Linked DNA regions of Homo sapiens: all the other regions are reported to be linked to region 4. The links are microRNA targets in miRTarBase. Many come from high-throughput screens and were not tested one by one. Region 4 holds a microRNA gene; each other region holds the end of a gene's coding sequence.

Region 1 (4,276 bases), not on the chromosome of region 4:
CTGAGATTGCACCATTGCGGTCCAGCCTGGGCAACAAGAGACTCCATCAGGAAAAAAAAAAAAAGATTCTGTCTCGAAGGCCACTGCACCTATTGTCTGTAGGTGTTAGGTTCCCTGTCAGTTAATTGGAGGTAATAACCCCTGGCTTACAGGGTTGTTTTGCAGATTACATTAAATAATTTAGGTATAATTCTTGGCACGGTGATTGGCACATAATGGGTATTTAACTATTAGTTGACTTTTCTGGGTACCTAAAAAAGAGGAAGGTTAGGGAAGATTTTTGTCCTTTGCTTACTCCTTCCTTTCCCAGACTTTGTGTAAAATACCTCTTACTTCCCAGGCTCTTTACTCTCCCTTCCAACCCAGATCCTGACGTGTGCATCTCTTTTGTGCAGGAGAATGTGATCCGAGAATTTAACTTAAATGAGCTATACCAGCGGGCCAAGAAACTATCAAAGGCTGGAGACAATATCCCTGAGGAGCAGCCTGTGGCTTCAACCCCCACCACAGTGTCAGATGGGGAAAACAAGAAGGATAAATAAGATCCTCACTTTGGCAGTGCTTCCTCTCCTGTCAATTCCAGGCTCTTTCCATAACCACAAGCCTGAGGCTGCAGCCTTTTATTTATGTTTTCCCTTTGGCTGTGACTGGGTGGGGCAGCATGCAGCTTCTGATTTTAAAGAGGCATCTAGGGAATTGTCAGGCACCCTACAGGAAGGCCTGCCATGCTGTGGCCAACTGTTTCACTGGAGCAAGAAAGAGATCTCATAGGACGGAGGGGGAAATGGTTTCCCTCCAAGCTTGGGTCAGTGTGTTAACTGCTTATCAGCTATTCAGACATCTCCATGGTTTCTCCATGAAACTCTGTGGTTTCATCATTCCTTCTTAGTTGACCTGCACAGCTTGGTTAGACCTAGATTTAACCCTAAGGTAAGATGCTGGGGTATAGAACGCTAAGAATTTTCCCCCAAGGACTCTTGCTTCCTTAAGCCCTTCTGGCTTCGTTTATGGTCTTCATTAAAAGTATAAGCCTAACTTTGTCGCTAGTCCTAAGGAGAAACCTTTAACCACAAAGTTTTTATCATTGAAGACAATATTGAACAACCCCCTATTTTGTGGGGATTGAGAAGGGGTGAATAGAGGCTTGAGACTTTCCTTTGTGTGGTAGGACTTGGAGGAGAAATCCCCTGGACTTTCACTAACCCTCTGACATACTCCCCACACCCAGTTGATGGCTTTCCGTAATAAAAAGATTGGGATTTCCTTTTGATTGCGCGTTTGTGTGTTTCTGTATTAGAAAAGCCTGACAACTGCAGAGGAATTGCCCATCTTAAGGGCAAAGGCCATCCTATTTGGTTTCACCAAATGCCGGGCATTGATCCCCAGGACTGGCAAGAGTTGGAGAAGTCTAGTTTCCATAAATCTAGAATAGCGGCCACATGTTGTTAGGTGGTGGGTTTACTCTGGGATTGGCCTGCGGTTGCCAGGGAGGAGAGTTTGGCGGCAGATGGTGGCACACAACATTTAGCGCCATGCAAAGGTACAGAAAAGATTGCGCGAAGCGAGGCTAGCAGTCGGACCTAGTCTCCGCCCCTTCCTGCTGTGTTCACCATCCCAGCGTCCCCTGTCCCCTCCACCCGAAGCGATGGGTGGTTCCGTCAGGCGCTTCCCGCACCTTCCCGCTCCCTGCTTGCAAAGTGGTTGTGCCCCAAGGTCCGCCTCCAGGCCACGTGGGTGCTGCGGGCCAAGCTTTCCCTTCCTTTGAGAGAGGTTTCCGCTGTAGGAGCAGAGCTTCCGGGCTGCGCTCTTCGTTGCCCAGTTTCCGCTCAGTGGTCGCGTCTCCGCCCCCCACCCACCAGTCCCGCTGCATTCTCGGCCGGGCTCTAGGCGCCATGGCTCCCCGCGGGAGGAAGCGTAAGGCTGAGGCCGCGGTGGTCGCCGTAGCCGAGAAGCGAGAGAAGCTGGCGAACGGCGGGGAGGGAATGGAGGAGGCGACCGTTGTTATCGAGCATTGGTGAGGGGCCTGGAGAGTAACGGGAGAGAGGGAACAGTGGCGCCGGGGGGGGCCAGGGGCCCCGGTTTCTAACCTCTCCGTCTCTCCCTAGCACTAGCTGACGCGTCTATGGGCGCAACGCCGCGGCCCTGAGCCAGGCGCTGCGCCTGGAGGCCCCAGAGCTTCCAGTAAAGGTGAACCCGACGAAGCCCCGGAGGGGCAGCTTCGAGGTGACGCTGCTGCGCCCGGACGGCAGCAGTAAGTGGGGACCTGGATGTGGGGGAGAGGGACGTGGGTGAAAGGGACGTGGGTTCCGAAGACAGGAAGCGCTATTCTTAGAAACCACGGCAGTCTCATGACTTCAGAGACGTGCTCGTGGGTTCCGAAGTATTGTAACTTCGCTTCATTCTGGCCTTTCAGGTGCGGAGCTCTGGACTGGGATTAAGAAGGGGCCCCCACGCAAACTCAAATTCCCTGAGCCTCAAGAGGTGGTGGAAGAGTTGAAGAAGTACCTGTCGTAGGGAGATTTGGGTAGAAGCCCTCATGCTGAGGTTTGAAATGGGAAGTGGGGGGCGCGACCGCTGTTGAGGAAGAGAAGGCATTGATCTTGGTGTGGCTACAAGTACCCACCTGGCGTGGGTAGCTCACGCCTGCAATCCCAGCACTCTGGGAGGTCGAGGCAGGAGTGGATGGCCAACACAGGGAGACCCTATTTGAAAACAAAAAACAAAAAAAAGACACAATATTGTTTTCTGTCTAGTGTGCCCTAAGTGGAATTTATGTCCTTTGGGAGACTGTAGTTGACTTGCCCTGGGGGTATGGACAAGTTTTCCATTTGGAAGTTTATTTCATGTTACTTCATTTATGCTTATCCCTACCCTCTTCTGTTTGGTTCTTGGGTGTTCTGTTACTGTCCTGTGTTAACACTGCATTACAATACCATTAAATTTGGTTACAAGGATTTTGACCTTGTCTTTGTCCCTAGTGCTTCATACAGTGCTTTGGCATGTTGTTCTGCACTTATTATGTTGAGTGAGATTTGGAGGAAGGATGCAATCCTTGAGCTTCAGGGTTTGTGAGTTCAAGGGTTGGGGAACATGTCTTCCTCAGTCCTTAAGATTGCCCAGATCCTTTCTCTAACCTTATTTCCCTTCTCATTTTTGCAGCTTTGTGTCCCTGGTGATGTTGGAACATTAATGATGGAACATGGCCAAACTTCAGTCATGATCCTGAAGCCATGGTTTCTTCCCTGCCAGAAATGAAGGTTCAGTTATGAGGCAACCCTCTAGTAAGGCATTGTAAAAGTTACTGGATTTGGTTTAATAAAAGTTGAAATAAAGTATTTGAGTAATAGAGTAAAACTTAATCTTAAGGGATGGACAAAGCCAGCCTTGTGGAGTTGGTAGTCCTTGTGTTTTTCATAGCCCAAGATAGCCATGTGACCTGGAACTTTTAAAAAAAAATTTTTTTTTAAGAGCCAGAGTCTCACTTTGTCACCCATGCTGGAGTATAGTGGTGCTATCTCGGCTCACTGCAACCATTGTCTCCCAGGTTCAAGCGATACTCCTGCCTCAGTCTCCTGAGTAGCTGGGATCACAGGTGCACACCACCACGCCTGGCTAATTTTTTTATTTTTATTTTTAGTAAAGGCGGGGTTTCACCATGTTGGCCAGGCTGGTCTCAAACTCCTGACCTCAAGTGATATGCCTGCCTTGACCTCCCAAAGTGCTGGGGTTACAGGCATGATGAGCCACCGCACCTGGCCTGACCTGCAACTTTTATGATCTCTGGTAAAACATGAGAAATACTTGTAAAAATTATGGGAGCAAAGTAAATAATTTATTTTTTAAAAAAGCAACTGTATCTTTTTCAACTTACTTTTTGGAAGTAATGATGGAAGTACATCTTCTTGGCCCCTGCAGAGGTTTTAGCTAGACTTCCTAATACTGGCAGTGAATAAGCCCCACGTTGGGTGCTGGACAGCATCCATCACTCCCACCCACTTAGTATTCCACCCAACACTGCTTCACACCTTCCTCTGGAACATTTTCTTAAACAATACCCCACCACAGAGGAGGGTGTTCTTTCTCAGCTTTTCCTAAATTACCAGTGACTGGATGCCTTATGACCTGAGAGATCTGGCCTTGGCTGTTACCTATGACCCACCAGAATTGGGGAGCACACAGTTTGTTTCAGTTGTCACTAACCGGAAAATAGATTACAAATAAGATGGTACAAGTTCATAATTTTCTATCTATGGTACCCTTGGCTTCTGCCTGGCTT
Region 2 (4,276 bases), not on the chromosome of region 4:
ACTTTACACTGGACACATGTGTGCTGAGCGCTAACACAAAGGCCAGGCAAGTGTCCCCTGGAGACAGAGGGGTGGAAGGCTAGGTCACAGGCATGGCTGTCAACGGACCCTGCTGTGCACCCATTCTGGCCGCGAAGTAGCTTCATGCATTCTCTGCCCAAGATAAATGCAGAGAAAACTCGGCTCTACAGGCTCACAGGGAGTGACGGCTGCTGGCCCCAGGAAGGAAGATGCTCCTTACGGGACACCTGCTGTGAGCCCCTTCTGTCACCCCACCCCCGCCTGGGTGGTGAGGAGGCCAACAGGGCAAGATGCAGAGCCTCCCGGCCCCTCACACCCCCATGGGCTCCTCACCACCATTCTCTCCCCAGGCCTTTTCTGTGGACCTGACCTTCTTCAGCGACCCAGGAGGCAGGAAGGGAAGCCTGAGTGTTAGAAGGAAAGACAACTAAGAGCAGCAGCCTGACCGCAGCTGAGCACGGTCGTGCTCCTCCCTGGGGAAGTGCCAAGGGAGGGACCCCCTGCTCTACCCGGAGCCCTGGAGCCCTGCTAAGCAGGGTGGAAAGCCTGCAGCCCGGGGGGTACCGCGACTGTGGCCCAACCATCCAGTGTGTGAGCCCTGGATGATGAGGCCACCAAGAGCAAGGCAGCCCGCTTGGACAACTGACCATCATCTGACGAGGCAGCGCATCACCCACGTCTCTGCTGTTCACATTTAATCCTGCACAAGAGCGTCACAAAGTGACAGCATTGTGAGGGACTAACGACCAGGCACAGGTGACCCTGGACGCGGCCAGTGGCTTCCTGCAGGGCGCTCAAAACCCAAGTCCTTATGATCCGCCGCATCTACTGCCGAGACACCAGCTGCTCCGTCCCCACCTGTGCTCAAGCACCTGAAGGCCCTTCCAACGGCGCCCGCTGGGCAGGGGACAAACCAGACACGAAACACACATGCGCTTTTACCAGCCTGGACTCTGTAAGAGAAAGGCACCCCCATATCCCCCCTGGGGAGATTTCCACTTATCCTGCAGGGCCCTCACTGCCTCACCGGGCTCTGCCAGGGCCTGCCCCGCAGGGGCAAGTGCTTTTCCTACACAGGGTCTGTGGGCCAGGACAGACCCAGAGGAGCTTCTGCTACGGGCTGAATGGTCACTCTGAAATTCCCATGTGGAAGCCCTAGGCCCGACGTGATGGTATGAGGAGGTCTCTGGGAGGTGATTTGGCTTCGATGGGGTGATAGGGGTCATGGGATCCGGGCCCTCACAAGGAAAAGGTGACACCAAAGCCCCTCCTGACATGAGGATGCCTCTGAACCAGGAGGCGCTCGCCGGAAACGGACCCTGTTGGCACCTCTACCTCGGACTTCCAGCCTGCAGAGCTGGAGAGAATAAACCTGTGTTGTCTGTGGGGCTGCCGGTGGTGTCCTGGTAAGGCAGCCCTGTGACTCCATGACCGACAGCTGCTCTCTACAATCTTCCGTGAGCACGAAGAAACTCATACTCATGCTGCAAATAAAAGATTTGGGGAACTTTTAAGCACACCAACCTCCCGGCTTCAACAGCTGTCAACATTCAGCCAATACTGTTGTGTCTTTCTCCTCTTTATTAGAATCGTAAAGTACATCCCAGGCGCCACGTCATTTCCCCACAAAGACGTCCAAATGCATCTGAGTGAGGATTCCTCCGTAACCCTGTGTCACCATCACCGCTAGCAGCCAATTCCGCACCCCCACCCGACTCACGGCCCACCCACCCGACTCACGGCCCACCCACGCAACTCACGGCCCACCACGCAACTCACGGCCACCCACCCGACTCACAGCCCACCCACCCGACTCACGGCCACCCACACGACTCAGTCCATCCACCCGACTCACGGCCCACCCACCCGACTCAGTCCATCCACCCGACTCACGGCCCACCCACCCGACTCAGTCCATCCACCCGACTCACGGCCCACCCACCCGACTCAGTCCATCCACCCGACTCACGGCCCACCCACCCGACTCAGTCCATCCACCCGACTCACGGCCCACCCACCCGACTCAGTCCATCCACCCGACTCACGGCCCACCCACCCGACTCAGTCCATCCACCCGACTCACGGCCCACCCACCCGACTCAGTCCATCCACCCGACTCACGGCCTACCCACCCGACTCACGGCCCGTGCCCACATTTCCATGATTGTCTCAAAAGTGACTTCGCACTCGGTTTGCTCCTACCAGGGTCACACACAGCCCCCTCGGCCTTTCTGCGTGCCCGTCTTCCCACAGAAACGTCGCCGTCTGGTGGCATCTCCAGCCGGATCTGGCTCAGGGCTTCCTCTCGGTGTGTTCAACCTTCTCCTCATCCCCCTATTTCTTGTAAACTCGTTTCTGATTCCAACATTACATATGCATCTGTTGGCTGGAATTTTTTTTTTGAGACGGAGTTTCACTCTTACTGCCCAGGCTGGAGTGCAATGGCGCAACCTTGGCTCACCACAACCTCCACCTCCCGGATTCAAACGATTCTCCTGCCTCAGCCTCCCGAGTAGCTGGGATTTCAGGCGTGAGCCACCACGCCTGGCCTGGCTGCAATTCTTAAAGAAAAACAGGCAAAAGCAAAAATAATTGGCTAACCTGAAACACGGCAGTGTCCCGACCCATTCCCACGGGGGTCTTCCCTTGGGAACACCACTGGCAGATTTTTATTTCTGGCTGGATAAGCAGACACCTTAAGTTTAAAACAAAGAGGTCACCTCTTCCCCCACGAAATGCGATGTGGTGGATATGGCCACCTCACTGCCCTGAGACCCAACTTGATCTCCCAACTCCAGGTGCATGACCCAGGCTCTGACCAACAGAGCTGGGTGGAGGCCGTTCCTGCAGCACTGGGGGTGGCCCTGACCTAACCACCACTCCTAATCCTTGAATGAGGTTCAGTATTACAAAGGCTCTTGTTTCTACGGCCCAGCGCAGAGGCTGCAGGAGGGTCTTTGCCTCTGTGCAATGCTCACAGCTGCCTCGCCCAAGACAGAGACAAGAAGGGAAGCCAGACCGGGCAGCCAGCATGGGGTGCAGAGCCAGGAAGGAAAGGCCCAGCAGACGGCGACTCGGGGCCAGGGTGGAGTCCCTGAGCCAGACGGCTGTGGGCACCAGGCAGGCTTCTCCGCCTCTGAGCCCGGCCTGGCACGTGGCTCCGGGGTCGCGCACACTCTCAGCACATCCCCAGGATGCCCGGCGCCGGGGCGCAGCCCCCGCCATCTCCAGAGCCCCCGCCATCTCCGGCGTACCCATGGCTCTGCTTCTCCCACCTGGCAGTTTTCCCAGTAAACTTCTCGGGGGACTGGGGAGCTCTGAGGACTAAGAAGGCTTCTCTGAATTCAGGTTGATTTTCCAGGCTGAAGAGCAACTTCTCACTGCAGCTCTCCCTCAGGACCCAGTACTCCCGCAGAGGCGCAGCACCCCACTCTTCGGGCGCCCCTACACCTCCCCGTGCCTGTGAGTCCTCTGATGCCGCGTGAAGAACCCCAGGTGACGGAAGCCTTTCCCACAGTGGCCGCACTCGTAGAACCTCTTCGTCAGGTGCAGCCTCCGGTGGATGCTGAAGCCCTTGGGCCACCGGAAGGACTTGCCGCACTCGGCACAGGTGTAGGGCTTCTCCCCGCTGTGGACCCTCTGGTGGTGGCTGAGGTTCTCCTTGGTCCGGAAGGCTTTGCCGCAGTCCGCGCAGTAGAACGGCCGCTCCCCGGTGTGCACCAGCTGGTGTCTGAGAAGGTTGGACTTCTGCTTGAAGGCTTTCCCACAGTCGCCACACGAGTAGGGCCTGTGCTCGGTGTGGACCTTGCGGTGCTGAGCCAGGCGGTCCTTCAGGCTGAACGCCTGCCCGCAGGCCTCGCAGCAGAAGGGCTTCTCGCGCGTGTGGTTCTTCTGGTGGCGCTGCAGGTTTGAAGCCCACCGGAAGGTCTGGCCGCACTCGGGGCACTCGAAGGCCTTGGTTCCCGTGTGCACCGTCTGGTGAGCGAGCAGCCGGCTGTGGCAGCTGAGCGCCTTCCCGCACGTGCCGCAGATGAATGACAGCTCTACTGCGCGCTGCTTCCGGCGCTCTCTGCGGCCCGGCCGCCGCCCACAACGCTGCGTGAGCACCTGACACGGGAAAGCCGTGGGCTTGGCGTCTGTCCTTTCTGGAGCAGCTCTGGGAAGCTGCCCGTCATCCGTGTCCAGCCTGAAGCCCTTCCTAAAGCTGCTTCCTTCCCTGGCTCTTTCTCGCCGCACGTGGGTTTTCTTGTGAGCC
Region 3 (4,276 bases), not on the chromosome of region 4:
AGTTTCTCATCCATTATCTATCTCCATTTTCCATTATGGTACCTCTCAGAAGAGTGAGAGAGAGCTATTAGAGATTGTGAAGAAGAATTTCGATCTCCGCCCTGGGGTCATTGTCAGGTAAAGATGGTAAAGCCTGTTGCTAGTCAAGTATTGAGGGTGTTGGGTGTGTGTGTATATACTTAAGGCTGAGGAGGTGAAGGTGTGAAGGAAGACTCCTCAAATGGGAATATATTTTAATTCCTGGAACAGTTTTGAACTGCTGCCTTAGTGAAGACTTAGTTATTTGAGAAATTTAAAATTACGGTGCTCCATGGCTTAGGCTAACCACTCTAGAGAATGTTCCAGATTTGATATTTGAGCTTTGTGCTCTTCTACTTAAGGGTGTTAAGAAAATAGAGATAAAGTGGGTTGCTCAAGGTTTGTTGCAATGTAAAAACCATGGTAGGGTGTGGGCGGCGGGACCTTGGTAAGTATTGTGTGATCTCAGGTGAGCTTTTTGACAATTGAAATTTCTCAGAATAATGACAAGTTTTCGTATTTGTTGAGCCAGGGACGGAAAAACAACTATAGTTACTAATAAGGACTGTGCAAGGAGTTTGGACACCAGGGAAGTAACACTTTTGCCACAAATTTTTTTCCTAGCATATCCCAGAGAACTCATTTGCCAGAGCTCTTGAAAATGAGTCTTGCTGATTGTTTTGCTTTATTTTAATTTAATGCTACATATTAAGTTACGGACTTGTATATTCCAGGGATCTGGATCTGAAGAAGCCAATTTATCAGAGGACTGCAGCCTATGGCCACTTTGGTAGGGACAGCTTCCCATGGGAAGTGCCCAAAAAGCTTAAATATTGAAAGTGTTAGCCTTTTTTCCCCAGACTTGTTGGCGTAGGCTACAGAGAAGCCTTCAAGCTCTGAGGGAAAGGGCCCTCCTTCCTAAATTTTCCTGTCCTCTTTCAGCTCCTGACCAGTTGCAGTCACTCTAGTCAATGACATGAATTTTAGCTTTTGTGGGGGACTGTAAGTTGGGCTTGCTATTCTGTCCCTAGGTGTTTTGTTCACCATTATAATGAATTTAGTGAGCATAGGTGATCCATGTAACTGCCTAGAAACAACACTGTAGTAAATAATGCTTTGAAATTGAACCTTTGTGCCCTATCACCCAACGCTCCAAAGTCATAATTGCATTGACTTTCCCCACCAGATGCTGAAAATGTCCTTGTGATGTGCACGTAAAGTACTTGTAGTTCCACTTATAGCCTCTGTCTGGCAATGCCACAGCCCTGTCAGCATGAATTTGTAATGTCTTGAGCTCTATTATGAATGTGAAGCCTTCCCCTTATCCTCCCTGTAACTTGATCCATTTCTAATTATGTAGCTCTTTGTCAGGGAGTGTTCCCTATCCAATCAATCTTGCATGTAACGCAAGTTCCCAGTTGGAGCTCCAGCCTGACATCAAAAAAGGCAGTTACCATTAAACCATCTCCCTGGTGCTTATGCTCTTAATTGCCACCTCTAACAGCACCAAATCAAAATCTCTCCACTTTCAGCTGTCTTTTGGAGGACGTACGTAATAAGGTTTTAATTTAGTAAACCAATCCTATGCATGGTTTCAGCACTAGCCAAACCTCACCAACTCCTAGTTCTAGAAAAACAGGCACTTGGCAGCCTTGTGATGTCATACAGAGAAGTCACAGGGCAGTACCTGAGGGTCTGTAGGTTGCACACTTTGGTACCAGATAACTTTTTTTTTTCTTTATAAGAAAGCCTGAGTACTCCACACTGCACAATAACTCCTCCCAGGGTTTTAACTTTGTTTTATTTTCAAAACCAGGTCCAATGAGCTTTCTGAACAGCTGGTGTAGCTACAGAGAAACCAGCTTCCTTCAGAGAGCAGTGCTTTTGGCGGGGAGGAGGAAATCCCTTCATACTTGAACGTTTTCTAATTGCTTATTTATTGTATTCTGGGGTATGGCGTAAGTACAGAGAAGCCATCACCTCAGATGGCAGCTTTTAAAAGATTTTTTTTTTTTCTCTCAACACCATGATTCCTTTAACAACATGTTTCCAGCATTCCCAGGTAGGCCAAGGTGTCCTACAGAAAAACCTTGGGTTAGACCTACAGGGGGTCTGGCTGGTGTTAACAGAAGGGAGGGCAGAGCTGGTGCGGCTGGCCATGGAGAAAGCTGACTTGGCTGGTGTGGTACAGAGAAGCCAGCTTGTTTACATGCTTATTCCATGACTGCTTGCCCTAAGCAGAAAGTGCCTTTCAGGATCTATTTTTGGAGGTTTATTACGTATGTCTGGTTCTCAATTCCAACAGTTTAATGAAGATCTAAATAAAATGCTAGGTTCTACCTTAACTGTGTCTGTTACTCATTTGTTAAAGTGCTTTGGGGCCATAGGTACGTGCCTATAATCCCAACACTTTGAAAGGCTGAGGTAGGAGGATCACTTTAACATAGAAGTTGGAGGCTGTAGCGAACCATTATCAAGCCACTGCACTCCAGCCTGGGTGACTGAGACTTTGGCTCTTAAAAAATGCTATCATATGAATAACCTGAGAATACTATATGTGTATCTTTAACCTTGAATTGTAATCCATAATTAGCCATAATTCAGGAAAATAACCTCAATCCCTAGACCCAGTGGGTGGGCATTTTTTAAAAGCCTAAGCAAGATTTAGTCCTCCTAGTCCACTTAAGCCAAAATTCATGTGTCCTTATTGCAGCAGCCATTCAATGCCATTTTTAAGTTTTCAACTAAGGTTGAGGGCTTCAAACCATTGAAGGCATAAAAACCGCTAAAAGTATTAACCTGGAAGTGGTAATGTCTATCTAAAGTCCTGGCAATTTAAGCCTATTAATCTGCATACATTTTTAAATTATGAGCTTAGTTTTAAGGGTTGTATGATGTTTTCATCTGAGAAGTTCTGAAACGTGATTTCTAGTCAATATCTTGCAGAGATAAATAATGCAAATTAGCTGAAAATGCTATAAATTTCCAAAGGCTTAAATTTCATTTATGGCAGGTTGTGTAGAAAATCCGCAGACCACACTGCTCTTGAACCTAGGAGCTACATGCATAGAGAATAGCCACTTGGATTACATTTCTACCAACATCTGAATGGTGGTCCAGCTTGTCCTGCAAATGTAGAGCCAAGGAGTGCTTGCTTATGCCTGTTTGCATGGAGACTTAAAAACTTGGAAATTTGGAGGCCAGGCGGAGTGGCCTGTAATATAGGCCACTATATAGTAATATAGGCGTGAGCCTATAATCCTAGCACTTTGGGAGGCCAAGGCATGCAGATCACGAGACCATCCTGGCTAACACAGTGAAACCCTGTCTCTACTAAAAATATAAAAAAGTTAGCCAGGCACCTGTAGTCCCAGCTACTCAGGAGGCCGAGGCAGGAGAATGGCGTGAACCCGGGAGGTGGAGCTTGCAGTGAGCTGAAATCGTGCCACCACACTCCGGCCAGGGTAACAGAGTGAGACTTAAAAAAAAAGCCGTGGAAATCTGGGTATGGTAGCTTACACCTGTAATCCCAGCACTTTGGGAGGCTAATGCGGGTGGATCACCTGAGGTCACGGTTTGATACCAGCCTGGCAAACTGAAACCCCGTCTCTACCAAAAATACAAAAAAGCTGGGTGTGGTGGCAGGTGCTTGTAATCCCAGCTACTCAGGAGGCTGGAGAATCACTTGAACCCAGGAGGCAGAGGTTGCAGTGAGCCGAGATGGCGCCATTGCACTCCAGCCTGGGCCAGAGCAAGGTTCCTTCTCAAAAAACTTGGAAATCTGTTGGGAAGTAGGGGGAGGGCAAGGTTAAAACCTATGCAGGTGTGTCAATTAGACTTGTTCCAACTTGAGAACCTGAATTTTGCATGTAATTGAAATGTTCCAGAACAAGTCTGGCAGTTTCATAAGGGAGTTTTTAGATGCCAATACATTGCAGATAACCATATTGGCTACATTAGGGGAATGAGCATGGATAGGTGCCTCCAAGTTGGTAGAATAGCATGAGAAGTTTTCAAAAGTAACCGCTTTAAGGTTATGTTCAGTATTTGCTAAGTAAACAAAGATTCCCCAACCTTGAGGGAGCTTGTGGACCAAGGGGATAGTGTTGTCCTGCCCAGCCTAGGGGAAAAGTATCCTGAAGGTTAATAAGGTGGTGGAGGAACATTAGGCCACAGGGAGCAGAGGGAAAGCATAACAGCAGGGGATGATAAGGGTGATTATAGTTTAGAAAGCATGAAAGTATGACTTAAGGAAATG
Region 4 (4,276 bases):
TGATGATGCAAAAGCAATTTCCGAAGTCTGTATCACTGTCACTTAGTTGTACAAATGTGTCACTTAAGAAACTAAAGGTCAGAAGTTTTCAGAGTTCTGACAGTCTTGTGGTCATAGCATTGAAGTTAAATAAGACTTAAGCTCTAGCCTTATAAATAAAAAAAGGTAAAAAATAATATATATAATATATTATATATCATTAATATATAAATCTATAATATATTATATTTATTAATATATAATATAATATATTATATAATACATATTATTAATATATAAATGTATAATATGTATTATTAATATATAAATATATAATATAAATTATATAAATATATAAAATATATTTATATAATATAAATTATATAAATTTTTATATAATTTATATTATATAAATATATAAAATATATTTATATTAATATATTTTATATATTATATATTTTTTATATAATATTATATAAATATATAATATATATTTTTTATACAATATTATATAAAATATATAATATTTATATATTATATATTTTATATATTATATATTTTATATAATATACTATATATAATATATATTATTAATATATATACATATTTAATATATATATACACACAAAAATCTTGTTGGTTCTGTTCTCTAGAAAATTCTCACAGATAACATTCATTTAAACATATCTATTCTCATATAGTTCTCACAGAAATTAGGGAAGCTTGATATTACCTTGTCCATAACAGGAGACCTCAGGTTCACTTTGAACACATGTTCTACTCATAACTGCACTCAAGCATGAGTATCTAGTGAGATTGTGTTGCTACAAAAATAAAATAAAATAAAATAAAACAAAATAAAATAAATTAGCTGGGCATGGTGGCAGGCACTGTAGTCCCAGCTCCTCAGGAGACTGAAGTGGGATGATTGCTTGAACCCAGGAAATCAAGGCTGAAGTGAGCTATGATTGCACCACTGCACCCCAGCCAGGGCAACATATGTTTTTTGTCTCTTACCAAAAAACACAAAACCTACACTAAAAATTAATTCATTGTTTGTAAACCTGTATTTATCTTAAAAATAAAAAAAGCGGTAGTGAAATAAATATAAAGAAGTTGGGATTAAAATTAGGATACAAGGATATAGGTACATGATTATGAGATATGCTTATTAGTCCATTAGCACATCCCATTATATCTCCCGTAAACTAAAAATTATCTTAAGAAAAAATATTGTGACTTCCTTCTAAATTCATATATCAGCAGTTCTACATATTATCATTAAAAACATAAGCTTCGGCTCAAAGGAAATTTTACAGGTGCCCCCTTTCATAAAACAGAAAAATCAAAGAGCTCTAGGACAAATTAATTTCAGAAACCTGTCTTCTCAGACTCTTTTCCCACCTGTCCTCACACATCAGCAAAGTAGCACCCAACAAAAGCACAGGAAATCCCAGAGCTCTGTGGATTTTGCTTATGAACATACAGTCCTATGAAAAATAAGGTTACATATGTATCAGACAAGGAATGGTAATAATAAATACTGAAGAATTAAAGGCTAGGAAATAAGAATAACATGTTTGTATCATAGTTCAAATTAAATTAGAGTAGCAAGATATTTCTTAGGTAAAGCATTTCCAATCATATTTATACACATATATTTTAAGGTTAAAAGTATACATATTGATTCATTCTTTTGGTCATTTATATGTTGAAAAATAATATACTGATTTTCTTTTATCTAACAGAAGGGCTTAAAAATTAGTATGCTAATTTATTTAAAGTCACCCAACCTTATAGAGCATATGCATAATCCACTTCTAAGGAATGAAACATAACAGGACAAAATAAAGTCATAATGAATACAATAGATATATTCAATGATGATGCAAAAGTAATTTCAGAAGCCTGTACCACTGTCACTTAGGTGTCCAGATGTGTCACTTAAGAAATTAAAGGTCAGAAGTTTTCATAGTTCTGACAGTCTTATAGTCATACCATTGAACTTAAATAAGACCTACGCTCTAGCCTTGGAAATAAATAAAAAACGGTAAAACCAAAATGACTATTTGAAAGCTTAATCAGTTATTAAAATAGTTAATCATCAATTGTTTGATTTATGGTCAGGGATAATCCATTCTTGGTAATCCTGATGACAGAAATGACCACAAAGTTCCATTTATTTTAATAAGCAATTACTAGTCAACAATTAGGCTTTTGTGACCTTGTAAAGGTTACACAATCTTTTCTGTCATAGAATAGGACTATAGATACTGTTTCCAGAAGAGTAAATGAAAATGAATGCCCAGTGAATACCTAATTTTAATATATGCCATCAAAATGTACAATTTGGTATGTTAAGGTGATTTTTTTTGCCCACACCAATGTTTTTCTTGTTAAAATAAAATGTTGCTTTTTACAAAAGTACTGCATAACAATGATGTCTTCAAGCCCCTGATCATTTACCAAACTATTTAATTAATATATTAATTGGGCATAATAATCCAAATAAAATATGATATTTAAACTTCAAAATGGTATGCTTAGGATTTAAGGGGCTGATTCAATTAATGTTTCTGATGTATCATGTTTTTTTAACCAAGAAATATTACAAATTACTTTTCAAAAAAAGAACAGTAGAGACAGAGACAGCAACTATGTAAAACATGTATATTTAGGTAAAGTAACCATAATTTCTGGTGTGTTTGACACAGGTTTGATCACTGTTAACACTAAGCACCAAATAGAAGGATTCTAGAGTATATTTACCAGGGATCTCTTGACTTTGTGTGTCTTGTAATACAAAGTGGCTTGTTCTCAATGGCTCAGTAAAGGAATCTTAGGCTTCATGGTGTAGATCAACTGCAGAAGCACCTGTGAAGCACTATGAATTACTTTGTAAACCACCACCACATTAGCTTAGATATGGTGATTCACAAAGAAATCCACAGCACTTCACAGTTTGTGTAAAGCCTGGTACCTATGAACCAACAAAAACAGTACCCTTTGGCCACCAAAAGTTGAGGAAGTATTTCCATCTAGTTCACAATCAATTGAAGAATATGCTCAGTTTTGCACCACCCTCTTTTAGCTGAAACACACAAGAAACACTGAACATTTATTTTAAGTAAATAAAACTTAAAAATAAATGCATGCTTTCTATATTATATACCAGTAAATTTCATTTAAAAGAATTCCTAATACAATAACTAGCATGACATTATGCAGGATGAAAAAACAGGGTTCTGCTCATCAAAATAAAAGGGCATGGTTATTAATATAGATGTCAGGAGTAGGGAGTAGAATAAATAATAAAACTATATGTAATTCTCACATCCATATCACAGTATATAAGTGTTGCTGGGATAATTTGTTCTAAAGATATCCTCAGTTACTTAGCTTCCCACTTTATACTCATATAATCTCATATCCTATGACACAAGCTTACCAATGTTACAAATCTGCCCTTGTACCCCTGAACTTAAAATAAAAGTTCAAAGGCAATCATTAAATGAGTTTAACCTGAGTGTTTTTTCCTCTGATATTTGTCCAAGTAAGTATTTTTTCATATGACTGCTGAAGTCCAAGAATGTTTATAAAACTAAATTCTATATTATACATATTAGGTTCAACTCTGAAAGAAAACCACACCAATAAAAAATGAAAAACAAACAATAAAGTTACTCTCCTTTGCAAAATAACCAGAATCCCACCTTTTAACTTTTATCTAAAGAGCAAAAAGAAAGGTTTCATTTATAATTAATGAAAAGAATCTATAAATCTTCCCAGCCTAGTAAGCATAATATCAATCAAGTAATTCATGCTTTTGAAAATTTCAACATTTTTCAAAGTAACCATCAAATGTCAACATTAATTAAAAGTTTGCTTTATAGAAGCTCATGAACATAAGAGTCCTAGGCAGTTCACCACTGTCAGTGTAGGTCACTGCTCAGGAATACCCTACTCACCTCCACCAACCACACATATAACAACCAAGCCAAACTTGCTAAGTATCTGAATAATTAAAAATATTTAAATAAAAAATTTGTAGAAAATATGTATGTATGAAAAAAAAATATTTGTTTTGCGCTTATCATGTGCCAGGCATAGTCTTGGTTAGATGCTGGGGATATAAAAACTCCAGGTTTCAAGAAATACAAAGGAGAAAACAAGAATTTGAAAAAAGCAGTAATAGGTGTTATGAAAAGTTTCCATATAGGGCTAATGGAGACATGGAGAGGCCACTTAATTCAGTGCTAAGAGCGTTGATTACAGATGTCTTCTCTAAGGGAATACC
Region 5 (4,276 bases), not on the chromosome of region 4:
GACCTCGTGATCCACCCACCTCGGCCTCCTAAAGTGCTGGGATTACAGGCATGAGCCACCGTGCCTGGCCTTTTTTCTTTTTTGAGACGGACCCTTGCTCTGTGGCTCAGGTTGGAGTGCAGCGGCAAGGTCTCAGCTCACTGCAACCTCTACCTCCAGGGTTCAAGCAATTTTCCTGTCTCAGCCTCCTGAGTAGCTGGGACTACAGGCACACGCCACCACACCCAGATAGTTTTTGTATTTTTAGTAAAGACGGGGTTTCACCATATTGGTCAGGCTGGTCTCCAACTCCTGACCTCAGGTGATCCACCCGCCTTGGCCTCCCAAAGTGCTGCGATTACAGATGTGAGCCACCACGCCTGGCTTTTTTTTTTTTTTTTTTTTGAGGCGGAGTCTCGCTCTGTCGTCCAGGCCAGAGTACAGTGGTGCAATCTCTCAGCTCACTGCAACCTCCACCTCCCGGGTTCAAGCCATTCTCCTGCCTCAGCCTCCCAAACAGCTGGGACGACAGGCACCCGCCACCATGCCCAGCCTTTTTTTTTTTTTTTGTATTTTTAGTAGAGACCAGGTTTCGCCATGCTGGCAAGGCTGGTCTCGAACTCCTGACCTCAAGCCATCCACCTGCCTTGGCCTCCCAAAGTGCTGGGATTACAGGCGTGAGCCACTGGGCCCAGCCCCCGACTCATTTTATGTATCCTGTGTCAGTGCTGTCCCATATAACCTTCCTTGATGACGGAAATGTTCTAATATGTGCAGCCCCGCTTGGTAGCCATACATGGCTTCTGAGCACTGGCTACTGTATTAACTAGGGTAGATACATAGAAAGTGGGCAAGTGGACAGAAAATCTCAAGTTGTAAAACATTCCCCCTGAGCATTTAGGTGCGGGACTTCCCTATTGGCTGCAGAGGCTGGAACTAGGAAGTAGAAATCTCTGCGCTCCCCAAACAATGAAGTTCACTCGCTTCCTATGAGTCATTAGCCACTCAACGAAGTCCTCACTTAACGTCATCAATAGGTTCTGGGAAACCGTGACCTTAAGCGAAACGACGTATAAGGAAACCAGTTTGTTTAAAGGACTGTTATTACAGGATCTGCTTGTTTTGCTTAAGTCCGTTTCCAAGCACCTATACAAAACGCTGAGGATGCACTGTGCTTTGAAGCCCAACTCCTCTTCCAGCACCGGCAGCAACCCTTGCGTCATTTGTGACTCCTTGGGAGGGGGAAGAGGGCTGTGGTCACTCAGTGCCCCATGACGAGCACATGGCCCGGCACAGGTGTTCAAGGAAAGTGAATGAGCAAGTTGAGGCCACAGACACCCGAAAACAACTCATCACAGACATGGTCTCCCTGGCTACTCTTCCTACCGGCCAGCAGACCCTGGTTCCCATGTCCTCTCCCCCAAGGAGTCCACCTGACTCCTCCAGGCTGTCAGGCACCGCTTGAGTCCCACAGCCTCTTGTGCTTTTCCCACAAGCGGCCACCCTGACTCCTTAGCTCCTCATGTTGAGGGGCCACAGGGTAGAGATGGGGCCTCTTGAGCAGATCTGTGACAACCTAAACTAGTAGTCAAGAACCTGGGCTCTAGGTCGGGCGCGGTGGCTCACGCCTGTTAATCCCAGCACTTCGAGAGGCCAAGGCAGGGGGATCTACCTGAGGTCAGGAGTTCAAGATCAGCCTGGATAACATAGTGAAACCCACGTCTCTACTAAAAATACAAAAATCAGTCAGGTGTGGTGGCACTTGCCTGTAGTCCCAGCTACTCAGGAGGCTGAGGCAGAATTGCTTGAACCCGGAAGGCGGAGGTTGCAGTGAGCTGAGATTGTGCAGCTACACTCCAGCCTGGGTGACAGAGCAAGACTCCGTCTCCAAAAAAAAAAAAGGCGGGGGGGGGGGGGCAGGTGTGGCGGCTCACACTTGTAATCCCAGCACTTTGGGAGGCCATGGCGGGTAGATTACCTGAGGTCAGGAGTTCCAGACCAGCCTGGCCAACGTGGTGAAACCGTCTCTACTAAAAATAGAACAATTAGCTGGGCAAGGTGGCAGGCGCCTGTAATCCCAGCTACTCGGGAGGCTGAGACAGGAGAATTGCTTGAACCCGGGAGGCGGAGGTTGCGGTGAGCCGAGATCACGCCATTGCACTCCAGCCAGGGATACAAGAGCAAAACTCTGTCTCAAAAAAAAGAAAAAGAAAAAAAAAGAACCTGGGGTCTTCCACAGCCCGGTTACCTGTCCAAAATGCCACTTTGGGCTCGGCATGGTGGCTCATGCCTGTAATCCCAGCACTTTGGGAGGCTGTGGCAGGAGGATCACTTGAGGTTAGGAGTTCAAGACCAGCCTTGCCAACATGGTGAAACCCCATCTCTACTAAAAATACAAAAATTAGGCTGGGTGCAGTGGCTCACGCCTATAATCCCAGCGCTTTAGGAGGCAGAGTCGGGTGATCACTTGAGGTCAGGATTTCAAGACCAACCTTGCCAACATGTTGAAACCCTGTCTCTACTTAAAAAAAAAAAAATTAGCTGGGTGTGGCAGGCGCCTGTTCAAGCAATTCTTTCCTTCAGCCTCCCAAGTAGCTGGATTACAGGCGCCTGCCACCATACCTAATTTTTGTACTTTTAATAGAGATGAGGTTTCACCATCTTGGCCAGGCTGATCTTTAACTCCTGACCTTGTAATCCACCAGCCTTGGCCTCTCAGAGTGATGGGATTACAGTCGTGAGCCACCGTGCCCGACTCTCCTTGTTTTCTTTGTATTAAAGATTATTGGCTAGGCATGGTAGCTCACACCTGTAACCTGGACACATTGGGAAGATGAGGCAGGAGGATTGCCTGAGGTCAGGAGACCACGCCTGGGCAACATAGTGAGACCTGTCTCTACAAAAACAAAAATTCAGCTGGGGGTGGTGGCTCTCGCCTGTAATCCCAGCACTTTGGGAGGCCCGGGAAGGCGGATCACTTGAGGTCAGGAGTTTGAGACCAGCCTGACCAACACAGTGAAACCCATCGATACTAAAAATACAAAATTAGCATGGCGTGGTGGTGGGTACCTGTAATCCAAGCTATTTGGGAGGCTGGGCTTGAAAAAAATAGACATCCACAAGGATGAGCCATATATCCGCCAAGGTCTGCAGCCACTAATGGCCCCAAACGACTGCCATCTCAGCTTTGCCTGCACACTGGACTCTACTGGAGGTGTAGAGACAGAGACCCCCTGCCTTCTGCTTCCACTCACCCACACCAAGCCCAGCGCGACCACTTCTGGGGAGGGTCAAAATCCAGACTGGCAATAGGTCCAGGATGTTTACTGATTTCTGTCTGGTTAAACATCCAATACCAACACATAAGGCCACACACAGTTCTTGAAACTTTAAAATCCCTCAAAAACTGTTTATTATACAAGTGAGTTTTGAGTCACGATGGGCTTATCGGTAGGATTTCTGGTAGCGAGCGCGGGCACCAGGGCCTCCAAACTTTTTGGACTCGCAGCGACGAGGGTCAGCTACCAGCAGGGTCCGGTCATACTGGATGAGGATGTCTTTGATCTCCTTCTTGGAAGCCTCATCCACATCTGGCAAGAAGAGCAGGGACGAGGATTTAGATAATCACACAGAGTCCTTGACTTGATCCCCACACACCCATCTACCTCATGGGAAGGACCCATGCTCACTCACATTTCTGGTAATAGGCCACCAGGGCTTTGGAGATGGACTGACGGATAGCTGTGAGAAAGACACACAATTAAAGGGTACAGGAGCGCTGTGAAGGCCTCCCTCCCAGAGCCACCTCCTCCATGCGCCCAGTTCCTGGGACTCACCATAAATCTGGGCCACGTGACCACCACCCTTTACACGGACACGGATGTCTACACCAGCAAATCGCTCCTTGCCGAGAAGCAGAACTGGCTCCAGCAGCTAAAGGAATGGGGAATGAACAGGGATTTAAGTTACATGCTGGGCAGCTTAGCCATCTCACTGGGCTTCTTGTTTCTGTGGCTTCTGCCACCACTGGCCTTCAAGTACTAGTGGATGGGGGTCAGGGTGTCACTCCAAGGCCCTCTACAGACCCAGAGAAGAGGAAAGTCAAAAAAGCCAGATATGAGACTGCTGAAGTGGTGTTAAGAAATATAGGCAAGGTAAAGGGAACAAGATCTGGGCTCCCTCCTACTTGTGTCCCTCACTGGACCTCAGACACCCTACCTCTAAGACTGGTTCTTAGAAGGCTGAACAGTAAGGAGCATTCCAATAGCTTCTGAAACTCCCAAGGCTGTTTCAAGTA

Evidence for each region. The annotated mature microRNA hsa-miR-876-5p reads UGGAUUUCUUUGUGAAUCACCA and lies in region 4 at 2,906-2,927, opposite strand. An mRNA with a match to its seed (bases 2 to 7 or 8) in the 3' UTR can be bound and repressed. Matches are read on the target gene's strand: a 7mer-m8 pairs with bases 2 to 8, a 7mer-A1 pairs with bases 2 to 7 and ends in A, and an 8mer does both.
Region 1: miRTarBase lists TMX2 as a target of hsa-miR-876-5p. Seed matches in the 3' UTR shown: 7mer-m8 at 1,180-1,186.
Region 2: the mRNA of ZNF707 is a reported target of hsa-miR-876-5p. The part of its 3' UTR that is shown has no 7-base or 8-base seed match.
Region 3: the mRNA of MAT2A is a reported target of hsa-miR-876-5p. Seed matches in the 3' UTR shown: 7mer-m8 at 1,917-1,923.
Region 5: miRTarBase lists RPS16 as a target of hsa-miR-876-5p. The part of its 3' UTR that is shown has no 7-base or 8-base seed match.

The regions. Positions count from the first base shown.
Region 1 is chr11:57,739,704-57,743,979 of GRCh38, forward strand. It overlaps TMX2 (thioredoxin related transmembrane protein 2), which reads left to right. Exons shown (of 8, transcript NM_015959.4): 8 at 396-1,270. The coding sequence ends at 542. It overlaps SELENOH (selenoprotein H), which reads left to right and starts at 1,788. Exons shown (of 4, transcript NM_170746.4): 1 at 1,788-2,014; 2 at 2,106-2,251; 3 at 2,414-2,544; 4 at 3,160-3,847. The coding sequence starts at 1,893. The coding sequence ends at 2,514. BTBD18 (BTB domain containing 18) reads right to left here. Exons shown (of 3, transcript NM_001145101.3): 3 at 3,811-4,276. All of the region lies in intron 2 of TMX2-CTNND1 (TMX2-CTNND1 readthrough (NMD candidate)), which reads left to right. RefSeq lists enhancers at 1,490-1,609, 1,930-1,979, 2,130-2,299.
Region 2 is chr8:143,693,720-143,697,995 of GRCh38, reverse strand. It overlaps ZNF707 (zinc finger protein 707), which reads right to left. Exons shown (of 6, transcript NM_001100598.2): 6 at 2,611-4,276. The coding sequence ends at 3,466. LINC02878 (long intergenic non-protein coding RNA 2878) reads right to left here and starts at 881. Exons shown (of 2, transcript NR_015445.1): 1 at 355-881; 2 at 1-57.
Region 3 is chr2:85,542,918-85,547,193 of GRCh38, forward strand. MAT2A (methionine adenosyltransferase 2A) reads left to right here. Exons shown (of 9, transcript NM_005911.6): 8 at 1-117; 9 at 753-2,364. The coding sequence ends at 855. It overlaps GGCX (gamma-glutamyl carboxylase), which reads right to left. Exons shown (of 15, transcript NM_000821.7): 15 at 1,803-4,276. Among named protein-coding and RNA genes, the nearest start is that of MAT2A, 5.9 kb to the left of the region's middle.
Region 4 is chr9:28,860,770-28,865,045 of GRCh38, forward strand. MIR876 (microRNA 876) reads right to left here and starts at 2,937; the gene lies at 2,857-2,937. The region is part of intron 2 of LINGO2 (leucine rich repeat and Ig domain containing 2); the gene reads right to left.
Region 5 is chr19:39,429,850-39,434,125 of GRCh38, forward strand. It overlaps RPS16 (ribosomal protein S16), which reads right to left. Exons shown (of 5, transcript NM_001020.6): 3 at 3,816-3,912; 4 at 3,673-3,720; 5 at 3,288-3,569. The coding sequence ends at 3,424. Among named protein-coding and RNA genes, the nearest start is that of RPS16, 4.0 kb to the right of the region's middle. RefSeq lists an enhancer at 1,595-1,714.